2 separate regions of the Homo sapiens genome follow, and region 1 is linked to region 2. The links come from fine-mapping of genetic effects on plasma protein levels. A gene starts in region 2. The other region holds a variant in brackets. All regions are shown on one strand. Distances are between the middles of the regions. Region 1 overlaps GRAP2 (GRB2 related adaptor protein 2). Region 2 holds the start of GRAP2 (GRB2 related adaptor protein 2).

What was found. PIP is the posterior inclusion probability: the model's chance that the variant is causal. The UK Biobank Pharma Proteomics Project read protein levels with antibody pairs (Olink). The fine-mapping took linkage between variants from a reference panel, not from the people measured, so its PIPs are less certain.
Region 1: its variant is fine-mapped to the plasma level of the GRAP2 protein (UK Biobank, PIP above 0.99).

The regions. Positions count from the first base shown.
Region 1 is chr22:39,944,046-39,949,424 of GRCh38, reverse strand. GRAP2 (GRB2 related adaptor protein 2) reads right to left here. Exons shown (of 8, transcript NM_004810.4): 2 at 2,241-2,332. The coding sequence starts at 2,318. Among named protein-coding and RNA genes, the nearest start is that of TMA7B, 14 kb to the left of the region's middle. The variant T/C (reference allele first, on the strand shown) is at 2,436.
Region 2 is chr22:39,898,845-39,904,223 of GRCh38, reverse strand. It overlaps GRAP2 (GRB2 related adaptor protein 2), which reads right to left and starts at 3,140. Exons shown (of 8, transcript NM_004810.4): 1 at 2,894-3,140.

The sequences.
Region 1 (5,379 bases), 45 kb before region 2:
ATTTAATCCCTAGCCTCAGTTTCTCATCTATGAAATGGAGGGGAAATGAATGCCTACCTCACAGGTTTGCTGAGATGATGAAATCATGCCTGCAAACCACTTAGCTAGATCCTGGCCCTGAACAGGAGCTCAGGAGACGTTGGTTACTGGTCACCAGGATTTGGTAAAGGAGGCATTGATGATAATTGGGGCTTCTAGCTTGTGACTGACCTAGGATAATAATTAGAACATGGAAAGAAGAGTGGCTTGGGTGGAAATGGGGGTGAGATGGGCATGGGGGTTTGAGTGATTCTCGGCATCCTGAGTTAGGGGCTGGAGTTCATGTGGGGACATCCAGCAGACAATTGGAAGTCTGGGTCTGGAGTTCAAGAGCAAGGCCAGAGCTAGAACACGAGCCACAGACTTGAGGGTCTTTGGCACAGAGGTGATAGTTGCAGCTGAAGAAGTGGATGAGGTGGCTCAGAGTGAGAAGAAAAATCAGAAAGCCAAAGGCAGCACCTTCAGGGAAGTGTATATTTCAGGATCAAGAGAGGAAAAAGAATGCTTGGAAATGAGACCTGTAGGAGTGGTCAGGAAGGGAGGAGAAGAACCCGGAGAGGGTGGTGCTGCCAAAGCCAGGGAGAAAGGGGCTTCCAGGAGAGGGCCAGTTAGCAGTGTCAATCCCACAGACATTTCCATAGGGTCATTATACTACACATTAAGGAGATCACTGGTGAACTTCAAGAGAATGTTGCAGGGAGGGTAAAAGGCAGATTCCAGAGAGTTGTGGAATGAGTGGGAAGTGAGGAAGTGAAGCACGCCCAGTGTAGAGAATTCTTCCCAGTATTAGCAACAAAGGGGAGGAAAGAAATCAGGAGCTGGATTGGGAAGCAGAGTTGAGCAAAGTTTTTTTTTTTTTTCTTTCCTTTTTCCTTTTCTGAGGAATAGAGAAAACTTAAGATACCAGGTTCTCTTTGTAATGGAAGACGAGGGTGGAAGTTGGTACAAGGATGGTCTCCAGTGGATGACAGTCACATGATCACAGTGCCCCACAGAGAAGGCAGGAACTTCTCGCTGCTTGGCAAGTCCCTCCAGGAGCTTCGTAAGACCCCAAAGCAGTGACAGACAGGTTTTCCTGGGTCAGGAGGCCCAACTCATATTTTAAGTTTGTGAAGGCCTATGCTTTGCCACTATGTTACTAGATCTTGAAAGTTGAGAGCAGTTAGAAGGCTACCTAATGGGCATGTTCATATTCCAAAAGAAGCCATTCTGTGGTGTTTTGTGCTCCTCAGACACTTTCAATGTCACCCTCTCACATGCTGACAAGGTTCTTTGTATAACAAACCTAATTCTCGGTGGTGAGACACTAATGGCCTCAGTGTTGCTGGGCGTCCGAGAAGGCTCATTGGGACTGCTGAGGACCAGGGATCAGGCTATCTGAGGACCAGGGATCAGGCTATCTGAGGACCAGGGATCAGGCTATCTGAGGGTGCTCTGAGGTCAGGCAGAGGGGGTCTGGCTCCACACACTCCCAAATGCCCTTTTGAAGGGCTTATGCTCTTTTGCAAACAAACAAAACAAAACAAAAACCCAAGGGCTAAGATGCAGAGTCTGAAAGTATGGTGCATGAATGTGGGAGAAGTCCAAGGCCACTTCAGCTCAGCAAGTGGCCACTACAACTCAAGTGCAGGATGAGGACAAGCTTTAAAAAGCCCCTGAGTGGCCAGGTGTGCATGGCCTTTGTTGAGCCATGTCCTCTGTGGCTGCCTTTCCCAAGCTGTCTCCACCCACAACCTCTCCTCCTGAGTTCCAGCTCTGCTGAGCCTGGCGCTGCTCCCTGCATTCAGCATGGGCTTGCACATCTCTGAGCTTTAGCTAAAAGCCCAAGTCACCTTCAGTGCATTCCTGACGTTCACATTGCACACACTCCTACAACCCCCATCTTTCAAGATGGAATCACTTGTTCCCTCACCTGTGCTCCCTGAGAACTTAGCCAAGAACATCTGTAACAGCCCTTTGGGTGGATGTGTTCCCCTCTCCAGACTACGAACCTCCCAGGACAAGGATGGTGGCTTATGCCGACTGTATTTCCATCACCCGGCCTGGTTGGTGTCTGGTATAAGGGTGCACAAAGGGAATCAAGGTGAACTTCTCTTTTTAAAAGGAACCACATGCAGTTCTTAAGAGACAAAGGCAGGGACTGTCAGATTACTGAGTAACTGAAACTCCCTACTGCTCCCCTGGGGCCCCAGGTCACCTACCTTCAAAACATCTCCAGTGTGAAAGCTCAGTTCATCCTCACCTGAAGCAGTGAAATCAAACTTGGCAACAGCTTCCATGCTGTAACGTGAAGCTGGAAGAGAAATAATGTGGTCATTGTGCCTCTCTGCCAGGGGGAGGGCAGCAGAGCCGATGGTGCTTCCTGGTAATCAGCAGTTCCTAGGAGAGTGGGCAGA[T/C]GGATGTCTCCAGGCCGGAGAGCAAGGCTCAGGCACACAACAAGGGCTTGTGTTTGCAGGAAGAGCTGCCGGAATCTATAGGATCTAGGTCCTGGGATCATTCTCGGAATCCCCAGATGCCAGGAGCAGGAAATGAAGGCCATCCGCAGCCTTTCCCTTCTCCTTTCATCATCCTGGCCTGACACCACTTTTGGGGGCATCTCTGTTTGCAGCTGATAAGGAGGGAAGGCTTGCTATCATCTGTAACTTGAGGCCTGAGGGGCTGGAAAGACTATTCTGTAAACACTGTCCCAAGGCTGTCCCTTGGCAGCTATATTTAACCAGGCAGTGTTAATTAGACGGATGCCATTTCCTCTTTTACATCTGAATCATTTAAGAGAATTAGACAGCATTGGCCAGTGGGGAACTCAGCTTCCTTCTGCATGGTTTGGGAGTAGAAAGAAGTTCTTGGTCTTCGAGTTGGGAGGCTCAATTGGTCAGATTACTTATTTTATGATATATTATAAACCAAGTACATTTTGGGAATTTTGATTTTAACATTTTTGAATTGAGTTAAAATAGTGGCCCCCTTCTTGTAATGCATGAGACCCATGTAAAGATAAATGAGTCGGCCTATGTAATACATTTAGTATGAACTAGAGCTGTGCTTTAGGAGGCAGCGGGGATGTAATGGTAAGACAGCTGGCTCCAATCCCAGTTTTGTTGGTAGATAGCTGTAGACTCTTGGGCAAGTAATTAAACCCTTGGAGTCTCCATTTCCTCATCTATAAAATGGTGATCATAATATTCAATTAATAAAGTTGCAAGGTTAAATCAAATTATAGATGCAGGCCGGGCGCTGTGGCTCATGCCTGTAATCCCAGCACTTTGGGAGGTCGAGGCGGGCAGATCACCTGAGGTCAGGAGTTCAAGACCATCCTGGCCAACATGGCAAAACCCTGTCTCTACTAAAAATACAAAAATTAGCTGGGTGCCGTGGCACGTGCCTGTAATCCCAGCTACTTGGGAGGCTGAGGCAGGATAATCGCTTGAACCTGGGAGGCAGAGGTTGCAGTGAGCCAAGATCATGCCACTGTACTCCAGCCTGGGTGACAGAGCAAGACTCTGTCTCAAAAACAAAACAAAACAAAAAAATTATAGATGCAAAGTATTACACCAGATAAAGCTAAATAGTATTTACGTTTTAAAATAATTTTATGGAATGAATTTTTCCCCAGCAAAGGTAGCCTGACCAAAATCAGCACAAGTTTTCTTTCCTCACTCCATCTCCTATGAACTTTTCTCATTGAAATTTGAGAACTAATCTCCATGACTATCAAATCCTGTGATTCTCTGCTAAGACAGCTTAACTGTCAGGACAATCTTGAAAGCTGTTATTTTCTTGTTGATCAAAATTTCCCTAAGTTTCAAACCCTTTAGGGTAGAAAATAAATACTCTCCAACCTAATAGACTTTCAGCGACCAGTCAACTGGGACCACATTTGTCCTCTCAGTGGGAATTCCTACCCAAGTTAACAAGATTTGGGTAAATAAGGAAGGTGGCTGCCAGTGAGAGGGTGAAACGCCAGGAGATCAGAGGATTAAAGCCGACTGCAACAGGGTGATAGCAAGGGGCTCATTTCTCTGATTCTCCACAATTGTTCAATCTTTCGAAGGTAATTTATAGAGATGACTATTACCCATTCAAAGGTAGATGTTAAGCAAAAAATAGACCAGGAGCCAAAGTAAAATGTCACAGTTAACTCTTTGAGTCAAAACGTACTCCCAAACAACACCATCACAAATATACTTTTTGTACACTTTCTTCAAGATCCATCTATCGAAGGCAAATTAAAATTGTTGTGACCTAGGACGACCCACTCAACAGGAAGGAGTATTCTGCCCTCCTAAGTTAATGCTAAATGCCTTTGCTGATTTGATTCACCCCATCATTTTAACACACAAGGCTTCTTCTAATTAAGGCCTTGCCTCTAGTTTGCAGAGAGACATGACTTCTGTGGGTCATCCTCATGGTATCAACAGTAGACAGTGGTCGCCTCGTGGGATCAAGTGTCAGGTGAATGGTCCTGAAGACCAAGGTCCCATTTGTATGCAAATTCACCTTAATAAGCAGGATGGAGACAAGGGAAGGGCAAATGCTAAACATATTAGAAAGTTACATAAATTAGAAATGAAAAAATATCCCAGGCAAGCTCTAGATAAGACCTTGATTTGGGGAAGATCTTTCCAACATGACATGTAACTCAGCTCAGGCTTGGGCACTGGGTCCAGGCTGGCTGTAAATCACTTCAGTGAGAAGTGAGAAGGCCGAGGCAGAAGTAAAATTGCTTCTGAATAGCAGCACTTTCCTCTGCCTTCCCCCAGGAGGTAGGCGGTATGGCAAAGCCAACGACACAGCCATGTCACAGAGCTCCCCAGCTTGTAATATTAATCCTGGCTCAAAAAACCCAACTAAACAGGCCCACTCTTTATAAAATCGCTTTGAAAAAATTTGTTTGCTCCCATTTCCATTTGTGAGATGAAATCTGCCCAGCTGCTGTTTGTTCAGGGTGGGGTGGGGTATGTTCTCTTTTTGTTTAAACCACAGGGCTTCAAAAACTCTTCCCTTGAAGCACCCCTAGTAGTAGAGAATAGTAAATATGTCACCCTCAGGGGTCGGTTTTCTGTTTGGTCATAAAAATGCATGGAAATGTATATCCCATTCCTCTATATCCATTAGCATTAATTTTGAAAAGTTTAAAAATTACCACCAGGGAAAAAGGAATCTGATTATCCATTTGTTTTATGATCTGTACCTGCCACCACTACATACTGCATTGGAGAAACAACAACAAAAAATATGATGCAGATATAAACTGGGTAGCAACAATTTAGACAGAGTTGTGGGGGGCGGAGTGCAACAGCCTGAATTCAAGAATGCAATGAAGCCTTCTTGCTGCTGTTT
Region 2 (5,379 bases):
AGAGACAGGGTTTCAACATGTTGGCCAGGCTTGTCTCCAACTCCTGACCTCAGATGATCTGCCTGCTTTGGCCGCCCAAGTGCTGGGATTACAGGTGTGAGCCACTGTGCCCGGCTGTTCTTCACTATCTCCTTAAGGTATGTCTTAACATTTTCTTTGGAGAGTATATAAGACTTTTATCATCATGCACTTCGTGATAGTTTCTTTTAATTCTCTAAAATTTTTGTTTATAAATACATATTTAAAAAGAAAACAATCTTTAAAAATTATTTACTGAATTCCTACTGACTCAAGTTTATTGAAACTTAATGTTAACACTGTTGAAGAGGACTTGGTGCCTAGTGCCAGGCCTGGCATATAGTAATTGATCGATAAATGTTTGTAAAATGCTTATTTGTTAAACAGGACCATGCTTTCTTAAGAATTTTTAAGAGAAAAGAAAGGGCAGGCCAGGTGTAGTGGTTCACACCTGTAATCCCAACACTTTGGGAGGCTGAGGCAGGCGAATCGCTTGAGTTCAGGAGTTCAAGACCAGCCTGGGAAACATGGCAAAACCCTGTCTCTACTAAAAATACAATATTAGCCAGGTGTGGTGGTGTGTACCTGTAGTCTCAGCTACTTGAGAGGCTGAGGTGGGAGGATCACTAAACCCAGGGTAGTTGAGGCTGCAGTGAGCTGTGATTGTGCCACTGTACTCCAGCCTGAGTGACAGAGTGAGACCCTGTCTCAAAAAAAAAAAAAAAAAAAAGACTCATGAGGCTGTGTTATTATCATTATTATTATTTATTTTTGGAGATCTGCCCACCTCGGCCTCCCAAAGTGCTAGGATTATAAGCATGAGCCACCGCGCCCAGCCAAGGCTGTGCTATTTCTTTACAGACCAAGGTATGCTGGGCAAATACCTCAAATGGACAAAATGGGGACCTAGCGACCCTATTGTTTGATTCAAACAACTTATAAAGATTCTTTAACAAGTTTTGAGTTTGTTTGATAGGGGCACAAAAATGAATCATCTGCCCCCAGGATTATCCAGCAGCAACTGTTACTTATTTAAGAAATCGTGATGGAATCACACTTACTGACACATTTTCGAACAATTGCAGACTTTTCTTGACCCAGGAAAAAAGGGCAAGTTCTACTCAAGCTTAGGCATGAACCCTGTCAGTCATCAACACCAGTGGGTGTTATTATCTGGGAATCAATAAATATGTTGGAACTAGGATCATTTTCAGCTCTTCTAGGAAGCAATAGTTCTAAAAGAGATGGCTTCAGGAAATAAGTGAGAGACATTTTGTATAAGAAGTGGGAAGAAAATGATCAAGAGTCAAAGAAACAACTAATCATGATATCGCCTTGCATTTTTATAGAGCCTTTTTCCTAAGGCACTTCATATCTATGTTAACTCATTTATTCTTACAACATCCCTACGAGGTAGACAGAACAATTGAAAGGGATTTTCACCAGGGCCTAAGATGTGGGAGATATTCAAAAGGATATTGTATTAGCAACAGAGATATTTCTTCATATTGAATAGATTGATCATCTCCTTCTCCTCTGCTTCAGTAAAGTCATTTTTAAAAAGATAAAATCTATTACAATTTGGGGAGAATAAGATTTCAGTTTACCACATGGGAGACACTCCAAGTTCAATCTAAAAAAGCAGTTTTATTCAATAATATAGGGCCACCTCTCTTTTACAAAAAAACAAAAAAGGGTATGAGTCAGATTTTTTTCGTATTTGAAAATTAAATATACTTAGGTGGTCCTCTATTTACACAGTGTTCCTTATTTAATAGCAGATGGTTTTGTAAAGAGAATCACTATAAAATTATTCTATAAAGTTTTACATAAAATACTGGATTGTTAAAGGAGAGTAACTTCTGCTAAATACTCTTTCCGAAACCAAAAATAAGAAACAAAAAGGAGCCACTAAAGAACTAAACCGTTTATGACAAACATTGCTGCATAGAACAAAAGATTCTGCGACCTGAAGTTTCCCATCCTCAGATAACATAACGAGAACACACGAAATTTTTCCCATTGGATGTTTAGATCTAAAACACTTCCCACTCCTAGTTTATCTAGGGATGTGTATGTTCAATAGTGTGCAAATTATGCTGCATACACTTTATTAAGAAGGCCTAATTCCAGGTAGATAAATACGGTAAATTTTTTTTGACAGTATACCTGTCAGGGCAATACAGTACATTTTAAATTAGTGAAACCTTTGGTTGGTATGTTCAATCCTCACGTTCAGGAAGAGTTGGGACAAAGAACACAAAGCAGCTATCTTCAGACTGGACGCCTAAACCAGAGACAGTCATAGGGATGGAGCCTAACGGCTAGTACGAAGAGAGACAATACCCTTCCAAAATACACTTCAACATAAAGTTTTCTTTTCGTAAAGGAATGAAAACTGGTGTCCTTTGTACAGGTAACAAAAATGCGAACAGAACTAGAAATTCAAGCAAAGAGAGAAATCCTGACCTCAGAGTGCTAGTGTTCATTCATCACTGCTCAGCCCTCTACCACCCCCTCCAATCCCTTCCAATTTGGATTAAATTCTGACCATGGTGAAGTGGAATTTTACCTCCATGATCCCAAGGTCGAAAATCTTTCCCTGAGATGCTTCTGAAGCCAGTTTGTGGAGATTTTTGTGTTATGGACTGGGTAAGGAACAAGTGTTCTCCCAGTTCATTTGATAGAAGTCAAATCCCATCACCACAAACATTGTCACAGCAAAAGGTTTAGAGACCTTAGCTGATGGGACTTAAAAGCAATATTTAGAGAACTAGTGAGATTCATTTTAATTAACTCATACAGAACATTCTGCAAATTATAAAACTGTTCAAAGTTTCTAGAGTATATGTACAGATGTTGTATAATGACATACCTTTTGGAAGAGAAGGGGTTGAGTTTATGTCTTGGCTTTGACACCGAGTTATTAGAATCCTTTCTGGCAAGAAGGGAGACAAATTCAAGCATCAGAGTTACTGCATTTCAGAGTATGGATCCACTTTGTGCTGTCTTCCATGTACCACTCTGAAAGAGGGTGCAAGTTTACAGATCCATTAACTGTGCCTCCTCCTCCCCACCTCTTACTCCCTCCTCCAAACTAACCCTAGTCAGCCCTGCAGTCTGTAGGCAAACCACACAGGAACTAGCACATATGGGGCTTCGGAGAGTTGGGCGTGAGCCTTAGATTATGTGGTTTTGTTTTCTTGCTGCCAGAGTTGAACTAAAATGCAGGAGGTTCACTGAAACACTTTTGCTTCTTTATGCTTGGTTTCAGTTTTAACAATATCCCCCCTGAACACTTGTGTTCACATAAGAAAATTTATAGTTCTTGATATGGTCCATCAGCAAGCTGATCTTAAGGAAAACTCTTATTCTCTTAGTATAATCATGCATCCAGAGGAACATTAGGGCTTCTTGGGGGAACTTATTTAAGAGCACCCTCGATCACTCACAATGTTAAAATCCCAGGAAAGATGCTTTGTTCATACACTCAGCCTCTAATATTACTCTTGACAAAAAAAGAAGAAACATTCTGAGCTGGGATGCATTCTCACCCCAGGTTTGCCACAGTCCAGCATGAGGTGGAACCAGTTCCTTCAATTTCTGGGACTTCAATTTCTGTTGAGTCTTAGACTGAAGGCTTTCTGGGATTTAAGACTTTCCATTGACCTTGAGTTTTGTTACCTTCAACTTCCTTAGTTCTTACCTTTAAATGTACCACTCACCCTTCCCCCTATATCAACTGCAACTTGTGAAGGCCTCTTCCTTTCTCTTTGCTCTTGCTAGAAAATGGATTGCCAACGTTGCATCTTTTACAGAAAATTAGAGACATTGCTACTTGCTAAGTGGCACCATTCAGAGTTTGGGGACTGGATCCAAGATGAGGAGGGAAATGTTGGCTCACTGGGATGTTCCTAGCATTAATCCCTGGAATACCAAGAGGAGAGTGTCAAGGAGAGATTCAATTTGGGGTTCTAAAATTTAAACTTTTTCTGCAATGTGAAACGGCATCCTTTTCCATCTCTTTGCTTCTTTATATCTAAACCTTGCTTAAAATTTACTTTCTTAAAACCTTTTCCTTGGTTATAATTGCCCAACATTTTTATTGAAATAGAAAAGAAGAATCAGCAAAGTGTCAAGGTGACAGAAAATGCTCAGTAAATATTTGTCGAATGAGTTAAAGGAAGTAATTTTCTATCCATAACTCCTTTTTTTTTTTGAGACGGAGTTTCACTCTTCTTGCCCAGGCTGGAGTGCAATGGCATGATCTTGGCTCACTGCAACCTCCGTCTCCCGAGTACAAGTGATTCTCTTGCTTCAGCCTCCCAAGTAGCTGGGATTACAGGTACCTGCCACCATGCCTGGCTAATTTTTTTTGTATTTTTAGTAGAGATGGGGTTTCACCATGTCGGCCAGGCTGGTCTTGAACTCCTGAACTCAGATGATCCGCCCGCCTCAACCTCCCAAAGTGCTGGGATTACAGGCATGAGCCACCGCACCCGGCCCTGTAGCTCCTTAATAACAGGCTTTCTTTTTATTAATGCAACTTTGTCAAATTTTCTTAAATCCTGGTTATATCTGAAAAGGATCTCTGCTATTTCCACATTATAAAGATAAAATTTAAAAATAACAACATCTTGCTACTTTAAAAATAATAACGTCTCAACCTTGACCTCAGAATTATTCAGCCTTCTAAGGACCTTCTTGGATCATTACACTGAACAGCTCTATTGCCAAGTTTTTAAATGCTGAAATCCTCTGGCTACAGTCCTTATTCTTTGATAGCTCCCAAGTCGATGGTTTTGAAATGGTTAAAGGAGTCCCTAAAATTCTATGGTTGGGGAGTGGGAGCGAAGGGAAAATGTTGAATGGTGTTACATGGAAAGTATCATGGTGTTTTCAGCTTGTACCCTAATGAGGAAGCTAATTTTGCACCAGGCACTACTCCCCAGGGAGCAGAATATAATCCTTCCCCTTACAAGCATGGGACAGATTGCAGAACAGAAAAATCTCAAAGGCAAGTTATTTTGGTAGTAAGTACTGATTGACAGACATGTTATGTAGAGCATAGTGGGAGGGAAGCAAGGCCACTTGAGTGGTTTATTTCATAACAGCTCTGTAACTGAACGAGTGCAAAGGCAGATCCTAAGAATAAAGACCCTAATGTGAGAATGCCAGCATTTCAGTACTCACTATCATGAGATACTCAGAAAAATAGCAGCAAGATGAGGAGGATACAGTAACATGTGAAATATGGACTTAGCCACAGTGGAGAAGTTTCTTTTTTAAACCATACTTTGTTTAAAATTTTTTTAATCAATTCCTTTTGAGGGGTCATTTGTTTATATCTGAACTTCTGTT